4 separate regions of the Homo sapiens genome follow, and regions 2, 3 and 4 are each reported to be linked to region 1. Evidence: microRNA targets listed by miRTarBase, many of them from high-throughput screens and not tested one by one. Region 1 holds a microRNA gene; each other region holds the end of a gene's coding sequence.

Evidence for each region. Region 1 holds the annotated microRNA hsa-miR-6720-5p (UUCCAGCCCUGGUAGGCGCCGCG, at 2,384-2,406, shown strand). A microRNA usually pairs through its seed, bases 2 to 8, with sites in the 3' UTR of a target mRNA and lowers its output. Matches are read on the target gene's strand: a 7mer-m8 pairs with bases 2 to 8, a 7mer-A1 pairs with bases 2 to 7 and ends in A, and an 8mer does both.
Region 2: the mRNA of SCARF1 is a reported target of hsa-miR-6720-5p. Seed matches in the 3' UTR shown: 7mer-A1 at 4,312-4,318 and 7mer-m8 at 3,969-3,975.
Region 3: the mRNA of MNX1 is a reported target of hsa-miR-6720-5p. Seed matches in the 3' UTR shown: 7mer-m8 at 2,691-2,697 and 7mer-A1 at 3,069-3,075.
Region 4: the mRNA of CDC42SE1 is a reported target of hsa-miR-6720-5p. Seed matches in the 3' UTR shown: 7mer-m8 at 1,582-1,588 and 7mer-A1 at 1,273-1,279.

What each region holds. Positions count from the first base shown.
Region 1 is chr6:1,386,527-1,392,764 of GRCh38, reverse strand. It overlaps MIR6720 (microRNA 6720), which reads left to right and starts at 2,354; the gene lies at 2,354-2,451. FOXF2 (forkhead box F2) reads right to left here and starts at 3,189. Exons shown (of 2, transcript NM_001452.2): 1 at 1,647-3,189. The coding sequence starts at 2,817. It overlaps FOXF2-DT (FOXF2 divergent transcript), which reads left to right and starts at 3,304. Exons shown (of 3, transcript NR_187218.1): 1 at 3,304-3,746. RefSeq lists an enhancer at 1,142-2,007.
Region 2 is chr17:1,630,388-1,636,625 of GRCh38, forward strand. It overlaps SCARF1 (scavenger receptor class F member 1), which reads right to left. Exons shown (of 11, transcript NM_003693.4): 11 at 3,471-5,230. The coding sequence ends at 4,371. Among named protein-coding and RNA genes, the nearest start is that of SLC43A2, 4.7 kb to the left of the region's middle.
Region 3 is chr7:157,001,830-157,008,067 of GRCh38, reverse strand. It overlaps MNX1 (motor neuron and pancreas homeobox 1), which reads left to right. Exons shown (of 3, transcript NM_005515.4): 2 at 1,429-1,589; 3 at 2,195-3,214. The coding sequence ends at 2,548. It overlaps MNX1-AS2 (MNX1 antisense RNA 2), which reads right to left and starts at 1,761. Exons shown (of 2, transcript NR_147077.1): 1 at 1,644-1,761; 2 at 948-1,191. RefSeq lists a silencer at 2,172-2,366 and enhancers at 2,135-2,787, 4,504-5,210.
Region 4 is chr1:151,051,606-151,054,605 of GRCh38, forward strand. CDC42SE1 (CDC42 small effector 1) reads right to left here. Exons shown (of 5, transcript NM_020239.4): 4 at 2,626-2,716; 5 at 1-1,722. The coding sequence ends at 2,642. Among named protein-coding and RNA genes, the nearest start is that of C1orf56, 5.4 kb to the left of the region's middle.

The sequences.
Region 1 (6,238 bases):
CTCCAAGACAGTAATGTATCCAGATTCCGAAGTTTTGGGAGCTTGTGCCTGCGCCCAGTGTTATGAGGTGGGGCGAGAGCAGCCTTGAGGAAGGGTCAGGAGTCTCTTTCCTGTGTGCTTTTTTTTCTTCCTAGAGTACGGTTTCTCCAAGGCTGCTAAGCCTCAGAGTCCGGGTTCAAGTTGAGTGGATCTGCCGGGAGAGGAGAAGAAGGGGAGCAGGGAGGGCAGCTGGCAGGCTGGGAGAGGAGCAGGCAGGCGGGGAAGGGAAGGGGCCAGTGCACCGAGGGGTGTGTGTGTGTGTGTGTGTGTGTGTGTGTGTGTGTGTGTGTGATTGACAGCCGGTCCAAGGGAATACAAAAATAAGAGGGGAAGGCCGCCTGTATTGGTTACTTGTTGAAATTCCCATAAAATTGAACAAGACTCTGTTCTCAGTGGGTTAAGTCAGGCTAAAATCCTCTCCGGTGTGGTCCTGCCGAGACTGTCTTTGTTTGGTTAACCTCTGAGACCCACATTTAAAAGGCCTATTTGGGAAATTTCACCGTCCAGGGAACCAACATCTTTTGCCCATTTCTGGGCTTTCCTTCTCCCCGGGTGCTCCCGCTGCACACCGGCTCAGGAACACATAAAGCATGCATCACCCTCCAAGCCACTGTCTCATTGCTGTGGGAGGCCAGTGTGAGAGAGTAGCTTGGGGCCTTGCCTTTGACTGGCAGGCCCATGGGATTTTAATCTGCAGCCCTAGGTGCTCCGAGCGAGGGGTTAATGTAAGGGTTTATCTCTGTTCTTCACATTAACCTGGTCAAATATTCAAATTCCCTCTTCCATCCCTACCGTCCCCTCCCACCTTTCACCGCCTTCAGCAAGTCAATAATTTTTCATAATCTGCAACCAGAACAATGTAAACCAGCCACACTACAAGTGGCATCCACAGGGCAGGCGCATTTCTCAGGGGAGTCCTAGCAGGGTCCTTCAGGTCCTGCCACCCAGGACCTGTATCATCAATGTGGGTCCATTGTTGGGCGGGGGGGGAGGCAGGGAAGGGGAGGAGTCTCCAACAGTTTGGTGACCCCCTCCACTGGCAAATGTCCCTTTAGTGAAAGATCCTGGGATCCAGCTCTGTCCCTCCCACCCCCTCCTCTTAACACTTGCCCAGCTGCAAACATCTCGCTGCAGACACCCCAACATACAGAACATATCTGATTCTGACATTTACTTCGGGACAGAAGTACAGCAAAATGAACGCAAGGAAAAAAAGGGACAAAAGGAACTAGACACAGCTTCCTGACCAAGTTCCCCAAAGGCCAGATGCCTTCTCTCCAAGCTAAGTGAGACTCTGAACGGGAGACCTGCAGTCTCCTGCACAGGGATCCCCAAAGAGCCCAGGAAGGCAGGGGACTTTACACCACGCTCACAGCAGCCAGACAATTCTGAAGCTTCGGCTGCTGGCCAGGGATACTGGGAGGACAGTAAGACCCTGATCCCTGCTCCCACGAATAAGATGCCGGCTTTCCCCAGCATCTGCTTTTCCCAGTGCCCTCAGACCTCCTAGCTTCGGGGTCCCTGTTTGTGGGAGTGGCAGTGGCCGCCAGCCCTGGAGGCCTAGAAGCGGTGCGCCCAGCTGGCTGGGCTGGAGCGTGCTGCGTTACCTGAGAGGTCCTCGCGAGCGTTCTGGTGCAAGTAGCTCTGCTCCAGCGAGTAGGAGGACATGCTGGAGTGCAGGCCTGCCGAGGCGGCGGGGTTGCTGCTGGGCGTCAGGGCAGGCGGCTGCTTGAGGTAAGGCGAGGCGCCAGGCGAGCTCCAGTGCGCCGCAGGGCTCGTGTAGGGCGAGTGGCATTCGATGGCGCTCGCCATGGCCGGGGACGAGGGTACCGGGCTGCTGCTGCTGTCCGGCCCGTAGTCGCCGCCGCCGCCGCCCCCGGCCGCACCGACGCCCCCGGGTCCCGCGGGCACCGGGCAGCTGGCCATGTAGGTGGAACCCGGGTTGGGCGACATGTGCGGGACGTGGTGGTGGTGGTGGTGGTGAGGGTGCGCGTGGCTGGGGGCGCCCGCGCCGGCGTCGTAGCCCGCGGGCATCATGTCGAGGCCGCCGTAGCCGCCCTGGCTGTGGCAGCCGAGCGGCGCCGACGGGGGCGCCTGGAAGTCGAAGCCCTGGGGCAGCAGCGACGCCCCGAAGCCCAAGCCGCTCACCACGCGGTGGTACATGGGCTTGAGCGCCTGGCACTTCCGCCTGAAGCCGCGCGGCCGGCGGCGGAACGAGCCCTCCTCGAACATGAACTCGCTGGCCGGGTCGATGGTCCAGTAGTGGCCCTTGCCGGGCCGCCCGAGGCCCTTAGGCAGCTTGATGAAGCACTCGTTGAGCGAGAGATTGTGGCGCACCGAGTTCTTCCAGCCCTGGTAGGCGCCGCGGAAGAAGGGGAAGCGCGCCTGCAGGAACTGGTAGATCTCGCTGAGCGTCAGGCGCTTGCTGGGCGAGCTCTGGATGGCCATGACGATGAGCGCGATGTACGAGTAGGGCGGCTTCTCGGGCCGCCGCAGCCCCGAGCTCGCCTTCTTGGCGCCCCCGCTCCCGGCGCCCGCGCCGCCGCCGCCCGCGCTCTTGCAGGCAGCCGAGGGGGCGCTGGCCGAATTGGAGGAGGACGAGGACGAGGCGCAGGAGGCGGAGGACGACGACGAGGAGGAGGAGGTGGTCTCCGGGGCGGCGGCGGCGGCGGCGGCGGCGGCGGGCGGCGGGCTCATCAGGGCGGCCTGGAGCGCGCCGGGGACCGGGCTGCACGCGCGGCGGAGCGGGGCCGGCGGCGGCCCGCCCTCGGTGGTCATCTGGGACCCGGGAGCGAGGCCGGGCCGCGAGGGCGGGCCCCGGGCGGGAAGCGGAGGCGCCGGAGCGGGGTCGGCCCAGAAGCCCTGCGAGCGCCCTAGCCCGCCGCCCGGGCTGCAGCCGTGGCCACTCCGGGCCAGCGCTTCGGCGTCGCCTCCCTCAGCTCCTCTGGGGCTTCTGGCGGCGGCGGCGGCGGCGGGCGGGAGGCAACGCCCGGCGCATCCCTCCCCGAGCCGCGGGCCCTGCCTTGCGCAACGGCCTCCCAGGCCGCGGGGCCGAGCGGCCGGCGCCGGGCGACTGCGCCCGCGAGTGGGACCGCGGCCTGGACCCCGGGGACGAGCCCGACGTCTCCCTTCAGGAGCGCTCCTCGCTCTGTCTCTCGGACTTCCTCCCTCCCTCGCCCTCCCCGGCCGCCCTCCTCGCTCCCTCCCTCCCTCCCTCCCCCCCCACCCCGCCCTGCCCCCTCCTCGCTCCGCGCCGCCGCGCTCACTCCTCCCCCTCCCGACCTGGCGGCCGCCTCCCTCTCTTATCTCGCTCCCCGCTCTCCAGGGTCTCCTCGCTCTTCATTCCTCTCGCGGCCTCCTCCCCTTTCCCTCACTCACCCTCTTTCCAATTGAGGGATCACAGACTCACTCCGGTTCTGCCAGGGGGACGACCCCCACCCCTCGCAAAACTCGACCACCTCTGACTTCATGAAATATTCTTTCTGTTTGCCCCCCGCAGCAAGCCCCGCGTCCCATCCCAGGACCCAGCCCCGCCCCTCCGCGCCCCCTTCCTCCTCCTGGCCCGCCGGGCCGAGTGGTGCTGCTGCGGGTGCGGCTGCTCGGAGCCTCCCTGGCCGCCCTCCCCAGGGCCGATACTGACTCCATCTGTCAACTTCGTTTAGACTTTGCCGCCCTCAGCCACACGCCGGGGTGCCAGACGCCCAAAGGTAACGTGCCAATCCTCTCTCTTTCTGGCAGGGCCTGCAGGCTCCCCGACAATTGTTAGGGCGACTGGGGGCCGCCGCAGGGTTGCGGGCCGCTGGCGATCGTGGACGTTTTCGGAACTTTGAGCAGAGGGATTTACACTGAGAAACCTAGGCCAAGTTTCAAAGACTCTGGAAACCTGGATCTCATGGGACTTAGGGTTGCATTTGCTTCCACTTCTTCCCCCCACCCCCGCACCCCAGTTAGTGTTCTGTAAGAAAAAAGTGCAAAAGAAAAAGGAAGGAAGGAAGAAAAGAAAGAAAGAGAAAGAAAAAGAAAGACCCTGAGATAAGCGAGATGGCTATATTTATAGTCAGTCCTGAAGGGGTGTGCAGCTGTCACTAGGTTTACATCCTCCGTCTTAACATTGCCCACCCAAAACTGTGCCAGGTCTCAGCTAACTCCTGTCCGAGAACACTTCTCCCCAGTTGTGGCTAATTCCTCCCTAAGTAAGAGTCAGGCTCTGAGAGAGATGTGCCCTCGGGAGCAATCACTTCCAATGAGACCCGACAGTTAGTTATTGGATTACACGTGCAGGGAAATGTAGTCCGACCAGGGATAGGAGCTGGGAGAGGGAGGAGGAGAGCAGGAGGCCGGAGCTGGCGGGGCCTCCCAAGGGCTGAAGGGGGAGGCCCAGAAAGAAGGTGCTGCAGACCAGCGGACCAAACAGGAGGTAGAGCTGGGCACCCCGCTGCGTCTAGGCTGAAAGGACCGAGGTGCACGGGTGTGCCTGCTGGGGAGCCTGGGGAGTTGCAGGAGGCAGGAGAAAGGGAGGTTGTGCAGTAATCAGGAGGAAGACACCAGGCAAAGAGCCTTCACAGCCGCACAGCCTAGGCAGGCCCCCTGGGGCGGCAGGAGCCCTGTGTGCCCCTGGAGTGCCGGGGGACTGCTCCTGGCTGAGTGTGCTGGTGGGGCTGTAGATGCAGAGAGGGCGGGTGGGGAGGGGAGGGGTATGTGGGAGGGGGGTGGGCCGGGGCTGGCCCCAGACAGTGACCTGAGGTTGAGTGGAAGCAGGCTTTTTCCATCAAACCCTGCCTGGATACCACACACAGAGACCGAGTGTCAGTTTACTGCCCTGAGCCGGCTCCTTCTCCCTAAGCTCCACAGTAATTAGACAAAGAAAACCTAAATTAGCTGAACAGGCGTCGACAGCTTCCTCCAGAGCACCCCTGGTACCTACATGGGAATGTGTCCGAAAATGGCTTGATTGTAGCCGAGAGTCAGCTAAGAAAACACCGCCAAACCGAACTCAGTTTACCACTCATTTCCAATAGAAAAAAGAAACAAGTCGCTCTTTTCCGGGTGGGATGTTTTGATTGGGTTGGGGTAGGGCTTCGCAGTTGTTTCCACTTTCTAAGAATTTCTGACTGACTGCTGAGCGTTTTTGGGGGGTGCGTCCCCATATATTTCATGGTATTTTTTTCTCTTGCCCTCATTTGTCATTTTGTGTGGAATAACTTAAAAATACATAACTAAATATGAAAGTAAATATAATGTGTTCACTAAACCAATGCTCTAAGTGCCTAAAATATAATTATTTTCATAAAATAGAAGCTGGAGTGGGGAGGACAGATAGGATCTTAAAGGAGCTCTACTGACATAGAGTTCAGTGTGTGTGTGTGTGTGTGTGTGTGTGTGTGTGTGCTTTAAATGGAAAGAGCCCAGGGGAGAAGCTTGTGGGGGAAAAGGACAATTATCTCATTTGTAGGTGGGGGCGGTGGGCAACGGGCTTTGGAAACATTCAGTACTCATTGTCACTTAGCCATGGACTCTCTCTGATTCTCTGTGCCTGAAAATTATATGTATTTGGATCTCAGGGAATACAGATCCAACTTGTTAAGAGCAGGCCTTAAAAGGTTTTAGGACCCGGAGACTGAAGAATAAAAGGCGCTAACCTTAAAATCCAGGCAGGACCAGTGATAACCTTCTATACTAGTAGCTCCCAGTTTTGGGGTTATGGGGTCATCCTCTGAGAATACGATGGAAGCTATGGAGCCAGTTTCCAGAAAAATACTTCCAACTTGCCTGAGATTTTAGGAAGTCCACAGGTACTCATTAAAACAAACAAGGAAACAAGCAAAAAACCCCAGATTCTTTTAGCTTCTACCAATTCAGCTGGTTAAATTATGAGGGATTTTTTTAAAAGGCTCCTTTCTCCATCCAAGCAACAGCAGTATCCATTTTACCTAAACTCTAAACTTGCAAGAAATCCCACTTAGAGTGTGGTGAGTGTTATGAGGGCCGGCCAGGTCGTGGGAAGGCAGTGGACATTGGAGAGCAGTTAGGGCCAGGAGGCGGTCAGCTGACTGGAAGCCTTCCCTCTCTGTAGGGGTCTGCATACTGCCCCTGTAGACCCTGAACTCCAGAAAGATAAGCAGCTTGGGGGCCTTCTTAAGTTATATCAGCAGGAAGGCTCCTCTCCAAAACTCTTTCTTGGATACCCCACTTCTGCTTC
Region 2 (6,238 bases), not on the chromosome of region 1:
TCAAACATGCCTCAAATATCCCCCAGAACTGTCCTCCACATTTTCTCTCAGATAACCATACTACTACTGTCTACTGAAGTTAGATACCAAGAACCCTGTCTTTTTTCTTTTTCTTTTTTTTTTTTTTTTTTTGAGACAGGATCTCAGGCACCCAGACTGCTGGAGTGTGGTGGCATGATCATAGCTCACTGCAGCCTCGACCTCCTGGGCTTAGGTGATCCTCCTGCCTCAGCCTCCCAAGTAGCTGGGACCACAGGTGCATGCTACCACACTTGGCTAATTTTTGTATTTTTTGTACAGATAGGGTCTTGCCCTGTTGCCCAGGCTGGTCTTGAAGTCTTGGGCTCAAGTGATCCTCCCACCTCAGCCTCCCAAAGTGCAGGGATTACAGGCATGACTCACAGTGCCCTGCTGAGAACCATCCTTTCATCAGACATTTGTTAGGCAGTCGCTGTGATTCTGCCTCTCCCTCACCGCATCCCCATCAAACTGATACAGCTGTATCTCCTACATATTTACCTAATCGGTCCATCTGTGCCCTTAGGCCCGCAACTACTGTTGTTGAGCCACCTTCAGATTTCAGTTCCTCAAATCCAGCCCCCATCTCATCCCAGGGCACTAAGGGAAATGTAAATGTGACTTCTGCCAAAATCCTTCAGAAACTATTATTTGTAAAACAGGATAAAGTTCCAGTTCCTGGCTGGGCACGGTGGCTCACACCTGTAATACCAGCACTTCGGGAGGCTGAGGCGGGCAGATCACTTGAGGTCAGGAGTTAAAGACCAGCCTGGCCAACATGGTGAAACCCTGTCTCTACTAAAAATACAAAAATGGCTGGGCGCGGTGGCTCACGCCTGTAATCCCAGCACTTTGGGAGGCCGAGGTGGGCAGATCACAAGATCAGGAGTACGATACCAGTCTGGCCAAGATGGTGAAACCCTGTCTCTACTAAAGAAACAAAAAATTAGCTGGGTGTGGTGGCGCACACCTGTAATCCCGGCTACTCTGGAGGCTGAGGCAGGAGAATCACTTGAACCTGGGAGGCGGAAGTTGAAGTGAGCCGAGATCGTGCCACTGCACTCCAGCCTGGGCAACAAGAGCGAAACTTTGTCTGAAAAGAAAAAAAAAAAAAAAGATCTGGGTGATGTGGCACACGCCTGTAATCCCAGCTACCTGGGAGGCTGAGGCAGGAGAATTGCTTGAGCTGGGGAGGCAGAGGTTGCGGTGAGCAGAGATTGTGCCACTGTACTCCAGCCTGGGCAACAAAGCGAGACTCCGTCTCAAAAAAATAAACAAAATTTAAAAGTTCCAGTTCCCCAATTTGACCCACACAGGCTCCTCCCTCTCCCTCCCTCTGAAGGACATCTGACCTGCCTGGTCCCCGATGCTCCAGTCACATGGAATTGCCTGTGGTTTCTGCACCTGCTGTTCTCTCTCCTCTAGCTCGCGACATAGCCTCATTTTGGACGGCACCTCCGCTGGGAAGCCTTCCCTAACCACTCCCCATTAATACTGTTCACTTTATTTGTCCACTGCTGGCATTGTTTTATAATTAGCTATTCGTCTGTTTGCCTTCCTCTCTAATTGACTATGAACTCTTTGGGGGCAGGACGGTGTCTTATTCAACTTTGTATGACCAGCCCTTGATAGAGAAGCAAGCACAAAGCAGTTGCACAATATGAGTTTGTGGAATGAAAACATGAACTCCTGAAAAGGGGCAAATGGCCAGGTGCGGTGGCTCACACCTGGAATCCCAGCACTTTGGGAGGCTGAGGTGGGTGGATCACCTGAGGTCAGGAGTTCGAGACCAGCCTGGCCAACATGGCAAAACCCCATCTCTACAAAAAGTACAAAAATTAGCTGGGCATGGTGGTGGGCGCCTGTAATTCCAGCTACTCAGGAGGCTGAGGCACAAGAATGGCTTGAACCTGGGAGGCGGAGGTTGCAGTGAGCCAAGACGGAAAAGAAACAACCTTAGAATACTCATAGAACTTTAAATTGTAATGAGATATAATTGTTGATGGCTAAACACACACACAAAAATTATATATACTTTTTAGAAGCTTTAGTGGCTGGGCACAGTGGCTCACACCTGTAATCTCGGCACTTTAGGAGGCCAAGGTGGGAAGATCTTCTGAGGTCAGGAGTTCGAGAGCAACCTGGCCAACATGGCAAAACTCCATCTCTACTAAAAATGCAAAAAAATTAGCTGCACGTGGTGGCATGCGCCTGTAGTCCCGGCTACTCGAGAGGCTGAGGCAGGAGAATCGCTTGAACCTAGGAGGCCGAGGTTGCAGTGAGCTGAGATCGTGCCATTGCACTCCAGCCTGGGCAACAAGAGTGAAACTCCATCTCAAAAAATAAATAAATAAATAAATATGGACAAAGTTGTATACTATGTCATTGCTTATTGTATCAAAACAGATCAGAACAACCCAACCTTCCATTGGCGGGGGAATGATTTAAATAATTGTGCTAGATGGAATCTCATGTAGTCATTTTTTAAATAAAGAGAGTTAGCTTTACATTTATGGACATTGAACTATATCCAGGATATGTCGTTAAGTAAAAAAGCAAGTTGAGGCTGGCCGCGGTGGCTCACGCTTGTAATCCCAGCACTTCGGGAGACCAAGGCGGGTCAGGAGTTCGAGAACAGCCTGGCCAACATGGTGAAACCCCATCTCTACTAATACAAAAATTAGCTGGGTGTGGTGGCACACACCTGTAATTGCAGCTACTCAGCAGGCTGAGGCAGGAGAATCGCTTGAACCCGGGAGGCAGAGGTTGCAGTGAGCTGAGATTGCACCACTGCACTCCAGCCTGGGCAACAGAGCAAAACTTCGTCTCAAAAAGAAAAAAAAAAAAAAAAAAAGAAGCTGAGGAACAGTATGCTTAGTATGCTAAAATTTTTTGTTTAAAATATTTGTTGACATGTACACAGAAAAACATCTGAAAGAAAGCACCTCAACTGTTGATGAGACTCTCTGAGCACTGAGATAGAAGGGGCTGCCCCTGGCCGGGCGCGGTGGCTCATGCCTATAATCCCAACACTCTGGGAGGCCGAAGCTGTGGAGCCCTTGAGTTTGGGAGTTCAAGACCAGCCTGGCCAACATGGTGAAACCCTGTCTCCACCAAAAAATACAAAAATTAGCCGGGCATGGTGGCGGGCGCTTGTAATCCCAGCCACTCAGGAGGCTGAGGCAGGAGAATCGCTTGAACCGGGGAGACAGAGGTGGCAGTGAGCCGAGATCATACCACTGCACTCCGGCCTGGGTGACAGACTGAGACTCCATCTTAAAAAAAAAAAAAATAAAGCTCGGGGGGAGGGTTGCCCCTTTTCTTTTCTGACTAGGTAATATGTGAGCAAAGAATTCAAACAAGACCAAAAAGCTGCCAGGGAAAAGTAGATTCTACCTCTCTCTTGACCCACAGACGCCTCTGGGGAGAAAGGAAATCTCCGTTTTACTTTATACATGTCTGTAATGTTAGTACTTTTTATTTTTTTAACAAAGATCATTGCTTTTTATTATACTTTATCAAATTCAATCTAGTAACAAAAGTAAAAAAGAATGTTCACTGTAGAAAATTTGCAAACTATACAAAAGTTTCAGAAGAAAATAAATATCACCTACAATCTCATCTTCCAGAGGAAAAAACCATTTAGTGCCTTTCCCTTGAATCTGTTTTTATACACATACATCCTTTTTAAAAAGTTCATAGACCAGGCGTGGTGGCTCATGCCTGTCATCCCAGCACTTTGGGAGGCCGAGGCAGGTGGATCACGAGGTCAGGAGATCGAGACCATCCTGGCTAACATGGTGAAACCCTGTCTCTATTAAATATACAAAAAAATTAGCCAAGCGTGGTGGAGGGCACCTGTAGTCCCAGCTACTCGGGAGGCTGAGGCAGGAGAAGGGCGTGAACCCGGGAGGCAGAGCTTGCAGTGAGCCGAGATCGCACCACTGCACTCCAGCCTGGGGGACAGAGGGAGATTCTGTCTCAAAAAAAAAAAAAAAAATTTGTTTAGCCAATCTTTTATCAGCAAACATGTAGGTTGTTTGCTATTTCAGAAAAATGTTTTGCACGTGAAAGAAAGAATAGCCCTTATGAGGCACACAGGGTCCAGGACAGCAGAGCAAAAGTCCCTGCAGGCAACCCTTCCTGACCCCATCCTACAGGGTCTCTGCCCAGGCCTTCCTGGGCCCCTCCGGGAGCACTGCCAGGGGCCTGGGCCAACTGGCCTGGAAGCCTTGCCTTTTCCCTGTGGAGGCGCAGAGGCTCTGGTTTGTCTGTCCTGGCCCCGGGATCATTTTCCAGCACACAGCACAGTCTAGTCCATCCACTCTCCCCACTCCCCAAATTCAAGGTCATCAGGGTTCTGGTGGCCTGGAGATGGGTACAACATTCTCATACTCAGGTTCCTCCTGCCTTTCCTCTTCAGCCTGCTTCTGGGGATCCTGTTCTGGGGAGCCACAGCCAGAGACTGGCTCCTGGGCTCTCCTTGAACTCTCGGTGCCAGCCCCCAGCCCCCGGACCGCTTCCTCTGGTCTGACTGCCATAGGCCCTGTGGCCCCAGGAAGCCCAGCTTTTGGGGCTGAGTTGGGGCTCTGGCCGACAGAGCCAGAGGCAAGGCCAGGGCTGCCCTTTTTCCGATTCAGGGCCTGGCGCGGAGGCTTAGGGATGGCCCTCTTGACCTTGGCTTCCGCCTGGCCTTTCTGGAAGCTACCAAAATGGCGGAAGACAGAGCGGACAGGGCCTTCGGATCCGCGGGGCTTCCCTGCCAGCATGTAGATCGTGGTCACAGGGCCCGAGCTCTCCTGGACGCTGCCCTCAATGGCTTCCACGTGCTCAGCCACTGTCCGGCCACCAAGTGGGGGCCGCCGGTGGCCAGTGGCTGAATCCCCGGGACTGGCAGCCGCCGGAAAGGACTCGGGGGCTTCTGCTTCCTCTGGGCCTGTGGACTCTTCGGCTTCCCGGCCCTCAGGACCCGACTGCGCCCCCCGGGAGAGCCTCTTGGGCTTTCGGAGCGGGCTGGAGAGCTCCCCTGAGCTTCGGCGACTCTGTGGTGCAAACTTGGTACCTTCCGCGAAGGAGACCGATGGCCGCTTGGCCCGAGCTAGGCTGGAGGTGCGCGGGATGGCGAATGGCGTGGAGGCGTCCTCAGGGGGCGGGAAAGCACCTGCAGCCAGGCTGGCCTCTGACGACCCTGCCTGGGCCACAGGGACCATCCCTGGCAGAGGAGACAGAAGAGCTTGGCTGGAGCTGAACTGGCCACCCCAATGCATCCTACCCACAGCTCAGCATCTTCCAGGAGGCCTCAAAAATAGGGCAAGGAAGAGGGCAAGGATGAGGAGAGTGGCAGAAGGACCAATTCAGGTAGACACTGTTACTTCTACACTTTTTTTTTTTTTAATTGTAGAGATGGGGTCTCACTATGTTGGCCAGGCTGGTATCAAACCCCTGGCCTCAAGCAGTCCTCCCGCCTCAGCCTCCCAAAGTGCTGGGATCACAGGTGTGAGTCACCACACCTGGTCTCTATACTCTTTTCTCACCACCTCTCCCTACTTTGAAATACTGTCACACTCTTACCAAGCTAAAACTCTTTCGATGGCACACAGCCACATCCCTCTCACCTCTGGGCCTTTGTGTATGCTGTTCCATCTTCCTGAAACACCATTCCCTCCTCTCCCTGACTTTCACTTGGCCAACTCCTACTGATTCTGCTAGACTCGACTGGGATGCCACACACATCGTCCCTGACCCCAGTCACCCCAACATGGCTAGCAAATGAGTCCCTACTTGTATGTCCCCCATGGAAACACATATCACTGTGTCCTGTCATTGTCTGATGACTGCCCATCTGACTCTAAGCCTGGTGAGGATAGGAATCTGTCTTGTTATCTCTTGCATGCCCGGAGCCAAGAACAGTGACTAACACAAAATGGGCCCTTAATAACTGTTTGCTGGCCAGGCGCAGTGGCTCATGCCTGTAATCCCAGCACTCTGGGAGGCTGAGGCGGGTGGATCACGATCCTGGCTAACACGGTGAAACCCGGTCTCTACTAAAATATAAAAATTAGCCGTGTGTGGTGGTGCACGCCTGTAATCCCAGCTATTTGGGAGGCTGAGGCAGGGGAATCACTTGAACCCGGGAGGCAGAGGTTGCAGTGAGCTGAGATCGCACCACTGCACTCCAGCCTGGCGACAGAGCAAGACCCAGTCTCAAAAAAAAATAAAA
Region 3 (6,238 bases), not on the chromosome of region 1:
AGTTCAGAAGAGGTATCTGCACCTGGCAATCCAAAAGGGCAGGCATAACCGTGCCAAAGACGGCGGAATGTGTTCTGAGAAGTCCTCCTCGCTGGTCCGGGGAAAACCTGTTTGGTTTCTTTAATTGGTTGTCTCTGCCTGTTGGATGGCATTTCCCAAATGGTCCCTCCGGAGCCAGTGGTTTAATTAAAGTTCTAATGTATTGTCAAGTTGGGAATTCGGGGCCTTGTTTGACTAAAGCAGGGGGCGTGGGCCATCCTCTAAAGCAAACTGCCCATCCCGGGGGACCTGAGCTCATCCAGGCCTGGGGCTGGCCTCCTTTCTTTCCTTTGCTTTCTTTCTTTTATTGTCCAACACTTGTCAGGCTCCTGGGAAATCAAGGGAAGTCTCGTTTTGAGGTCATAAAATTCTCTGTGATGTAACCGTGCGAAATTATGTAAATAAAGCCGGGCAGGCCTCCTTGAACACACAGAGAACCGGATCCTGCCTGCGCCTCTGCCTGTAATTTGCGTAATGAGAATTGTCCTGAAAAGGCTTCTAGTCTCCTCAGGCCTTGCCCCTGCCGCCCGCACCCTGAGGAGGGGGCATGCCAAGGAAAACATTTGGAAGGTGGGAGGGTCCCTGGTGAATACACAGACTTGGACCCTGGGTTTGGTCCTGTTCCACCTGTCCTCTCTCCCTTCCCTTCCTCCCTTCCTTCCTTCCTTCCTTCCTTCTTTCCTTCTTTCCTTCCTCCCTCCCTCTTTCCCTCTCTCCCTTCCTTCCTTCCTCTTTTTCTCCTCCTCCTCCTCCTTTTCTGTCTTAAGGAGGCAGTGCAGGGAGACCTGGAACAGCAGGACCAGCTCTTCCCAGACCTGTTTGGATCTGAGCCTGAATCTCTAGGAAGGCGCAGTGAGGAGAGGGGGAGAGATTTGGTTCTCATCACTCACTGCTCCTTTATTTTATTATTTTATTATTTTTTATTTATTGAGAGATGGGGTCTTGCTGTGTCACCCAGGGTACAGTGCAGGGGTGCAGTCTCGCTCACTGCAGCCTTCAACTCCTGGGCTTCCCGGAACCTCCCTTCCTGGCCCCCGACTGGCCTCAGTTCTCCTCTTGCCTCTGGGTCAATCCACTGCTACCAAAGCCGGCTCCTGTGGAGAGGAAGCCTCCTGCGATGGGCCCTGTTTAACAGGGACACTCAGACGTCTCCTAGACAAAAAAAAAAAAAAAAATTGGTCTCATTAACTCCAAACTATCCATTTCCACTTGGTGGTCCTGAGTCCGCATTCCTTGGGGAGTGGGCACTGATAGTGAGGGAACAGCCCCGCCCTCTGCAGGGCCAGGCCTTGGCGCTGGGGCCTTGAGTGTAGTGGTACAAGCAGCAACGGGAGGGGCTGGGGCGAGGACCGGAGCCGGCTGTGGGCCTCACTGCCCTTTGGTCCCCAGCCCAGGCGCAGTCGAACCTCCTGGGGAAGTGCCGCCGGCCGCGCACCGCCTTCACCAGCCAGCAGCTGCTGGAGCTGGAGCACCAGTTCAAGCTCAACAAGTACCTGTCGCGGCCCAAGCGCTTCGAGGTGGCCACCTCGCTCATGCTCACCGAGACCCAGGTGCGCGCCCTCCCCGCCCCCGACGCATCCCGGCCTCCCAGGGGACACTGTTACCTTTGCACTTGTGACCCACGGGCGGTCTGAGGCATCTAGCGCTGCGCCTCGACGGTTCAGACGGCGGGCGCACGGGTTCATCTAAGGTGCCCAGAGCGCCGATTCAGTAGCTTCGGGTGGGGCCCAAGAATCAGCACTTAACCACCCCTCCTTTCATTCTGAAGAAGGTGATCCCCAGGCCGCATTCGAGAAATTTTGTTCCAGAAAGAGAGGAGGGAACATCCTGAGATTTACCGCGACGTAGCCAGCTGCCCTGACCCTTCCTCCGCAGACGGAGGGCGCGGGTAGAAAAGTCCCCGGCCTGGGTCGTTGGGGACATAGTCCTAGCTCCCACGGAGCTCCAGCCCAGCTCTGGGGTTTGCTGCTGAGTGGGGGGTTGCGGGGAGGAGGAAGCTACGAGCCCCCTCCCCATTCTGCTTCTAAGTCGTCTCACCCTGAGGCCATTCCAGGGCCGACCCAATGGGGCCCAGGCGCACGCGGCCGGGGGACTCCGGGGACAGGAAGCCCTGGGGTGGCGGTGGCCGGTTTCTCACGCCCGCTTGTGCCCGCAGGTGAAGATTTGGTTCCAGAACCGGCGGATGAAATGGAAACGCAGCAAAAAGGCCAAAGAGCAGGCGGCGCAGGAAGCGGAGAAACAGAAGGGCGGCGGCGGGGGCGCGGGGAAGGGCGGCGCGGAGGAGCCGGGAGCCGAGGAGCTGCTGGGGCCGCCAGCGCCCGGAGACAAGGGCAGCGGACGCCGCCTGCGGGACTTGAGGGACAGTGACCCCGAGGAGGACGAGGACGAGGACGACGAGGACCATTTCCCCTACAGCAACGGCGCCAGCGTCCACGCCGCCTCCTCCGACTGCTCCTCGGAGGACGACTCGCCGCCCCCGCGGCCCAGCCACCAGCCCGCGCCCCAGTAGGAGCCCCGCGGCCCAGCAGGTGCGGCGCGCACGGAGCGCCCCGGCCGGCGGCTTCTCCCGGAGGCCCCGGCGCCCGCACCCACCCGGCCCGGCCCCGAGAGCAGGCTCGACCGCCGCCCCATGGACCCCTCGCCCAGGCCGGGGCTGGAGGGATTCGGCCGCGGCTCCGGTCCTGGGCGCTTCCCTTTTAAGCAAGGGCGCCTCACCTGCTCTTCAAGAAACAGCGAGAGGGAGACCCAGGGGGCTGAAACTTGAACTCTGGTTCTTTTAAAATTAATTTTGGTTGGTGTTGGGGGAGGCGCGAGTGCGTGTGAGAAGAACCGACCCACCCCGCGCAAGGGGAAGCCTCCTGTCTCCCCTTTCCCCGCGTCCGAGAAGGCGGAAACCCACAGTGTTACCTGACTTATGAAACTTGAAACCGCCTCTGGAGCCGCCATTCTGCAGAGTATTTGGAAAAAGAAAAAAGGGTTTATGCTTACGTCTCTGGGGTCGGGGGGATTATGTCACGAGCGTTCAAACTGCTGGAAATCTCAAAACTGTACTGTCTTTATTTTTGTATATTGTATTTATATATAAAAAGAAACGTCTACGTATGCATGCTAAATTATTATTTAGCTTCTCCCATCGCCCACGATGGAATGTAAAATAAATTGGTTTTGTACTGGATCAGCGTGCACGAGTTTTGGGGGATTATGCCCGCGGCATTACAATTTGCTTGTAGAAATGATGGGGAGGGTGTCTACTCGGCGGTTGGCAGCTGAGGGTGAAAATCGGAGTCTCAAGTGGGTGTCAGGACCACCTCCGCGCCTGCTACTGGGGAGTCGCAATGTGAAGTGTTGGCAAAAATACCTGTGGCCAGGTGTCAGCGCATGCCCGGCTGCCTGGTGCACACCTGTCCCGGGACACGTGTCCCTCGGAAGCGGAGCTGTGGACTCTATTTATTTTCCTATTTCCTTGCTAGCTGTTGCTTCGTTGGCACTCCAGAAGTGGAAATACGCTATTTGGACGTTTCAGAAAATAAGCTTAAAACGACTAGGCGTTAGTAGCATGTGGGGTCCCTGTGACCTCAGGCGCTACTGAGGCACATTTCCCGGAACGCACCGAATTGCGCGGTGCTTCTCTCTCTCCTCGACCCCGGCCCTCTCTGTTAGCAGAACCTTCCTTGGCTGGCCAGGATCGGTCTTCTTGGCTCTGTGCAAACAAGTCCGCGAGGACAGCGGCGGACTGCAGCAGCGCTCCACACCGCGGCTGCAGCGGCTCCGGGTTAATCAGCCTCTGCAGCGCGCGCCATCAATCACCGCAGCCAGGCCCAGCGCCATGTGCTGCACACATGCGGGCTCAGCCCGCGCTCTCGTCCGCCCAGGAGCGCAGGCCCGCGGCCCACCCAGCCCGGCGCGACTCCCGGCCCCCTTCCCCCATCGATGACCCAGTGGCCTCTCCTGGCCCCGGAGGAGACGGGCGACGGGGACGCCGCTCCTATCCCTTCTCCCGGGCCTTCCTCCTTCCTTCTGTTTGTCACTTTCTCAGCAGCACCTGCGTGTGCCCTTCTCCTCCCTCCTCCCCTCCCCTCCTCCCAGCGGATAAAATGAGTTCAGAAGGGCCTGGCGTTTCATTTGGGTGATTACCGCGGGGCGAGCGCAGCCACTCCTCTGCCTCAGGGCGCGGGGAGATTAATATCCTCTCTGGCAACTCATTATCACCCCGGGCCCCTTCCATAAAATCAACCTCATCCAAGGCCGGGGCGCGGCTGCTGGGAGTCCGGGCAGAAGCAGCTGCTGGGCGCTGGCGCAGGGGCCGGGCCTCCGCCGCCTGGGGTCCAAAGGTGTTTAGGGGAACTGGGAGAGGGTTTGCCACTGGTGGAGGAGGCAGAGTGCCCAGAGGAAGAGGGTGGGAAAACCAGAGGGAAGGGGGGAAGACAGATGCTTTTTTTTTTTTTTTTTTTTTTTTTTTTAATCTGCAATCCCTACATTTCTTTTTAATTTCTAACACATTGGTGAGGTTCAGCCTGCAGCAATCTCTCCCCTGGCTGGCCCCACATCTGGGGATTATTTTCCCCTTGGGCTCAGCCGGCCCAGCCTCAGCGCCCTCACCAACACTGGGCAGCCAGGGAAGAGTGGGGGCTCGGCCTGGAGCTGGGGTGCCCCAGGCCTCCGCGGAGGGTCTGTCCCTCTACCCCCAGGGGACAGGCGCTTCCTCTGGGACGCGGGGAAGAGCGACATCAAAGGAAGACGCTGTTAATAGGGCCGCCCCTCCCCCGTCCTCCAGCAGAGCCAGGCCCCGGACCTGCGCCGGCCCCTGCGCCTCCAGCAGGCCGCTCAGTCGCCGCGGAATTTATCTCGCTAATAAATTTAATGATCAATTCGTTCTTGTCACAGTAGCTCTTCCCCAAATCAATTATAGCAAATTTAAATATAATCACTGGCTCGTCCTCATCCACTCCGGGCACGGTGAACAATTCATTCTGCCTAATGAACGGTCTCGAGGCCCGGCTCTGCCCGCCTTGCGGGCGCGACCCCCACCCCTGGGCGCCGCGCTCGGGGTCGCTGACTCGGCTCGGCCTGGGGCGGTGGTCCCTCGGGGCCCAGGCCTCCAATCGCACCTGAGCCGCCAGCTGACCCCGCGCATGGGGGAGAAAGTCTTTGCAGCCCTCAAGAATCCGGTTCTCCGGACCTGAAGCCAGGTCTACGCAGGGGGACCCCGGAGGGAGCTGAGGCGGTGTTTTCAGACAGGCCCAGGCTTCCCCCACGGGACATGTCTGCTGTCCTCTAGCTGTCCCGGAGGCCTGCGGATCTCACTGCCTTCAACAGAAGCGAAGGTACGCGGGGGGAGACCCCTGCGGCGGCCGTCACTGCGACCCGGGGCTCTGGGCCCCACCCAAAGCTGACCCTGTCCCCTGGAACCCAGCCTTGCCTCCTTGCCCTACCGAGGCCCCCACCTCTTGGCCACCGTTTTCTTTGCTCCAATGTGGGTTCTCCTCCCTTCTTAGAAAGGGGGGCCTTGCTGTGGGCGAATTCTGCCGGGCGTGCAAACGCATGTGGAGGAAGCCTTTTTTGTGACGGGAGAAAACAGTTCACACACGCCCCCCAGACGGAGGCCCAGGGGGCTCCTTTCCAGCCCCTCCTGGAGCTCCGGCTGCCAGGTGAGAGGCAGCCAGGAGACCCCGGTTAATCCCTGGTGTCAGGGAGTAAAGAAACAGCTCGAAGGGAGAGGAGGTGGACCTGTCCCTTCCCTCATCCGGTGACTTTCCTTCTTTGATACTGAACACAAGGCAACCAAAGCAAAAATAGACAAATGGGACTGCATCAAACTGAAAAACGTACGCGCCACAAAGGACGATCAACAAGAGTGAAAGGCAACCTGGGGATGGGAGATATCATCTGCAACACGCGAATCAGGGAATGGGTTAATGTTCAGATTATGTAACTCTCAGCACTCTACAACAAAACCAAATTAAATGGGCAAATGACTTGAATAGATATGACTCCAAATAAAATTTTGAAACGGCAACACACATATGAAAAGATGCTCAACACCAATAAGCATCAGGGAAATGCAAATCAGAGCCACAGATCCACCTCACACCTGCTAAGATGGCCAATATAAAACAAACAAAAAGCACAGAAAATAGCAAGTGTTGGTGAGAATGTGGAGAAATTGCAGCTGTGGTCAGAATGTAACATGGCATAGCCA
Region 4 (3,000 bases), not on the chromosome of region 1:
TCCTAATTACCCTGGAAGGGCCAGAACGAAGAACACCTGAGAATACTGAAAGTGCCTAAAAACCCCTGCTCCTACGTTGTTTTCCCATTTAAAGCAGACTCTTCAGCCAGGGGGCAGTGGGACCTGGTCTTCAGACAAAACTCCCTGAGTCTAATGTGTGTCTAGGACTAGGGCACAGAAATAGAGCTTAAAATTTGGGGAGGATAAGGAGTGTATCTACTGCTTCTCTCTCCCCTTTCCCCAATCCTACCATACCCTGTTCATATCTCTACACTGCAGGAACCACTTCTCCAGAGGGCAAGAATGGAGGAGGGGGACCTGTCCATCATAGCAACATGCAAACACAAGCAAAACACTGAATAAAGAATTGTTTGGAGATTATGTGCAGCCCTACTGAGCCTCATTTATATGGGCTCCTAGTTGATCCATGGCTCGGGCTTAAGATGAGTAAGATGATGAGGGTAGCGTGCCAAGCAGAAATCACTTCAGAGAAAAATATCTTGACTTTAGAGTTGTGGTTCTCAAATGGAGGCGATTTTGCCCCCTAGGAGAAATCTGGCAATGTATAGAGACATTTTTGGTTGTCATAACTAGAGTGGGCCAGGGTTGCTGCTAAATATCCTGTAATGCACAAAATAGGAAACAGGTTTTCCTTACAAAGAACACTTCAGCCCAAAATGTCAAAGGCATCTCGGTTGTGAAACCTTGTTCTAGAGCCTCTCCCTGCTCCCGTGCTGTGAGGATCTTAAGACTCCTAAACTCACAGATGATTGTTTTCAACCTATTTATCTCACCATCCTCAATGATCAGAAGTCCACCTTGAGATGGACTTACTCCTAGTTCTGCCGCATTCTGGGTTTCTTTCCAGACCCCTCTTCCTCCTCTCACCTGGGCCAGCAGGGAGGTTGGCAGAGGGCAGGAAAGATGCCCCAAAACTTAAATGGAATGTCATCAGGTGAAGAGCTACCTCTTACCTTAACTCTTATTCGGTGGGAAACAAGGTTCCTAATAGGGATAGAGTTAAGGGCGGAGGCAACAGCAGGATGAGGATAATTAAGAGAACCTGAATTAAATTTTTAATATTTTAAAAAAGGAAAGTTGCTGGGAAGCTGGTAAACAGAAACAGAAGATTAGAGGCCTAACTAGAAAGAGACACTGGTGTTAGCAGAGAGATATTGAGGGGCTGTAAGCCTAAGGTTTGAAATCTAAAGATAGAGTGGAAAAGGGAGTAGGCACCCCCACCAGCCCCTGCTTGACATCTGCTTTAGTTCATTCCAGCAGGAAGGAGGAGAAGGGCAGGGAGGTAGGGAGCTTCTCAGCAAAGCCAGCTTCAGCTTTGATAATCTCACCCACCTACCCCATTTAAGGAGTTCCAGGTTTAAGAGTTTAAAAACAGGTGGCACCCAGACCATCATTCAGGAGACAGGAACTCATTCCAGGTTCCTAGAGAACTCCTATCTCAGACCTGAGGGTTTCCAGGGCTTCAGCTGAGCTCCTCTGGCTAACCAGTAGTCACTTGATCAGTCCTGCTGCCTTGACCCCATCTCCAGGAGGGGCTATGGCCAGAGGGAGTAGAGGGAGTCCAGCCCCCAAGCCTTGTGAGGCACTGTTAGGCAGATAGGGAAAAGAGGGGTCCTTAGATCACTGGTTCAAGGAGGGATCTGGTAGGGGCAGCATTTCTTCTGGGCTGGAAACAGAATGGGGGTTTCAAGATGGCAGAACCTGAAATAAAAAAAAAGTTTTTCTTAAAGAAGATTAGCCTCAAAGAAAACCAAGGCTTTAGGAAGAAGGCACTACCTAGTGCAGACTTTAAGCTATTTCCACAGTGTGTTCTTTACTTCTGTCTGCACAACACCCTCTCAGTCTTTCTATATCCTACATTCTTTTTTTTTTTGAGATGGAATCTCACTCTGTTGCCCAGGCTGGAGTGCAGTGGCGCAATCTAGACTCACTGCAACCTCCACCTCCCGAGTTCAAGTGATTCTTCGGCCTCAGCCGCCTGAGTAACTGGGATTACAGGCGTGTGCCATCATGCCTGGCTAATTTTTGTACTTTTAGTAGAGACAGGGGTTCACCATGTTGGCCAGGCTGGTCTCAAACTCCTGACCTCAAGTCATCTGCTGACCTCGGCCTCCCAAAGTGCTGGGATTATAGGCGTTAGCCACCATGCCCGGCCTAGATCCTACATTCTTGAATCTTCCCTTCTAATTCCTCCCTATCTCCCATTCTTTTTTTATATTTTGAGATAGAGTCTTGCTCTATCACACAGGCTGGAGTGCAGTGGCGCGATCTCAGCTCACTGTAACCTCCGCCTCCCAGGTTCAAGTGATTCTCATGCCTCAGCCTCCCAGGTAGATGGGACTACAGGAGCACGCCACTGTGCCCGGCTAATTTTTGTATTTTTTGGTAGAGACAGGGTTTTGCCTCGTTGGCCAGGCTGGTCTTGAACTCCTGGCCTCAAGTGATCCACCCATCTCGGCCTCCTAAAGTGCTGGGATTACAGGCATAAGCCACCATGCCCGGCCACACCTCCCTTTCTTGCATAAGATCAGGGTTCTGAGTCAGGGTATCAGGTTGTGCTGTTATGGGGGCTGAGGTGTTAGATGGGTTTCTCTAATCACTCACCATTCCATTATTGGAGCTATAAGCCCCTAGAATTGCTCCATGGCCTATCTCGGTTTCCCTTGGATCTCATCTGCTCCTGAACTGCACCTGTCTGTAAAAAAACAGATGCGAGACACCTTCGTAAGTCTTCATATCCTACAGTAAGAACTCTACTTTGTGCCTTCCAGGGAAGAGGCTGACGCCATCTCCTTGACAATAGCAGCCATCTGCTAACCACCATTCCTCCTAGGGGAGTCTCAATGCCTCTTTTCACACTGGCCTTCATGAGGATGAGGTAAAATGGGTCTTTTACTAATAATATTCCCTCACAATGGATTCTCCCCTATATATCTGAGTTTCAGGATCTGAGAAAAGACTATCTCTAGACCCATTTCC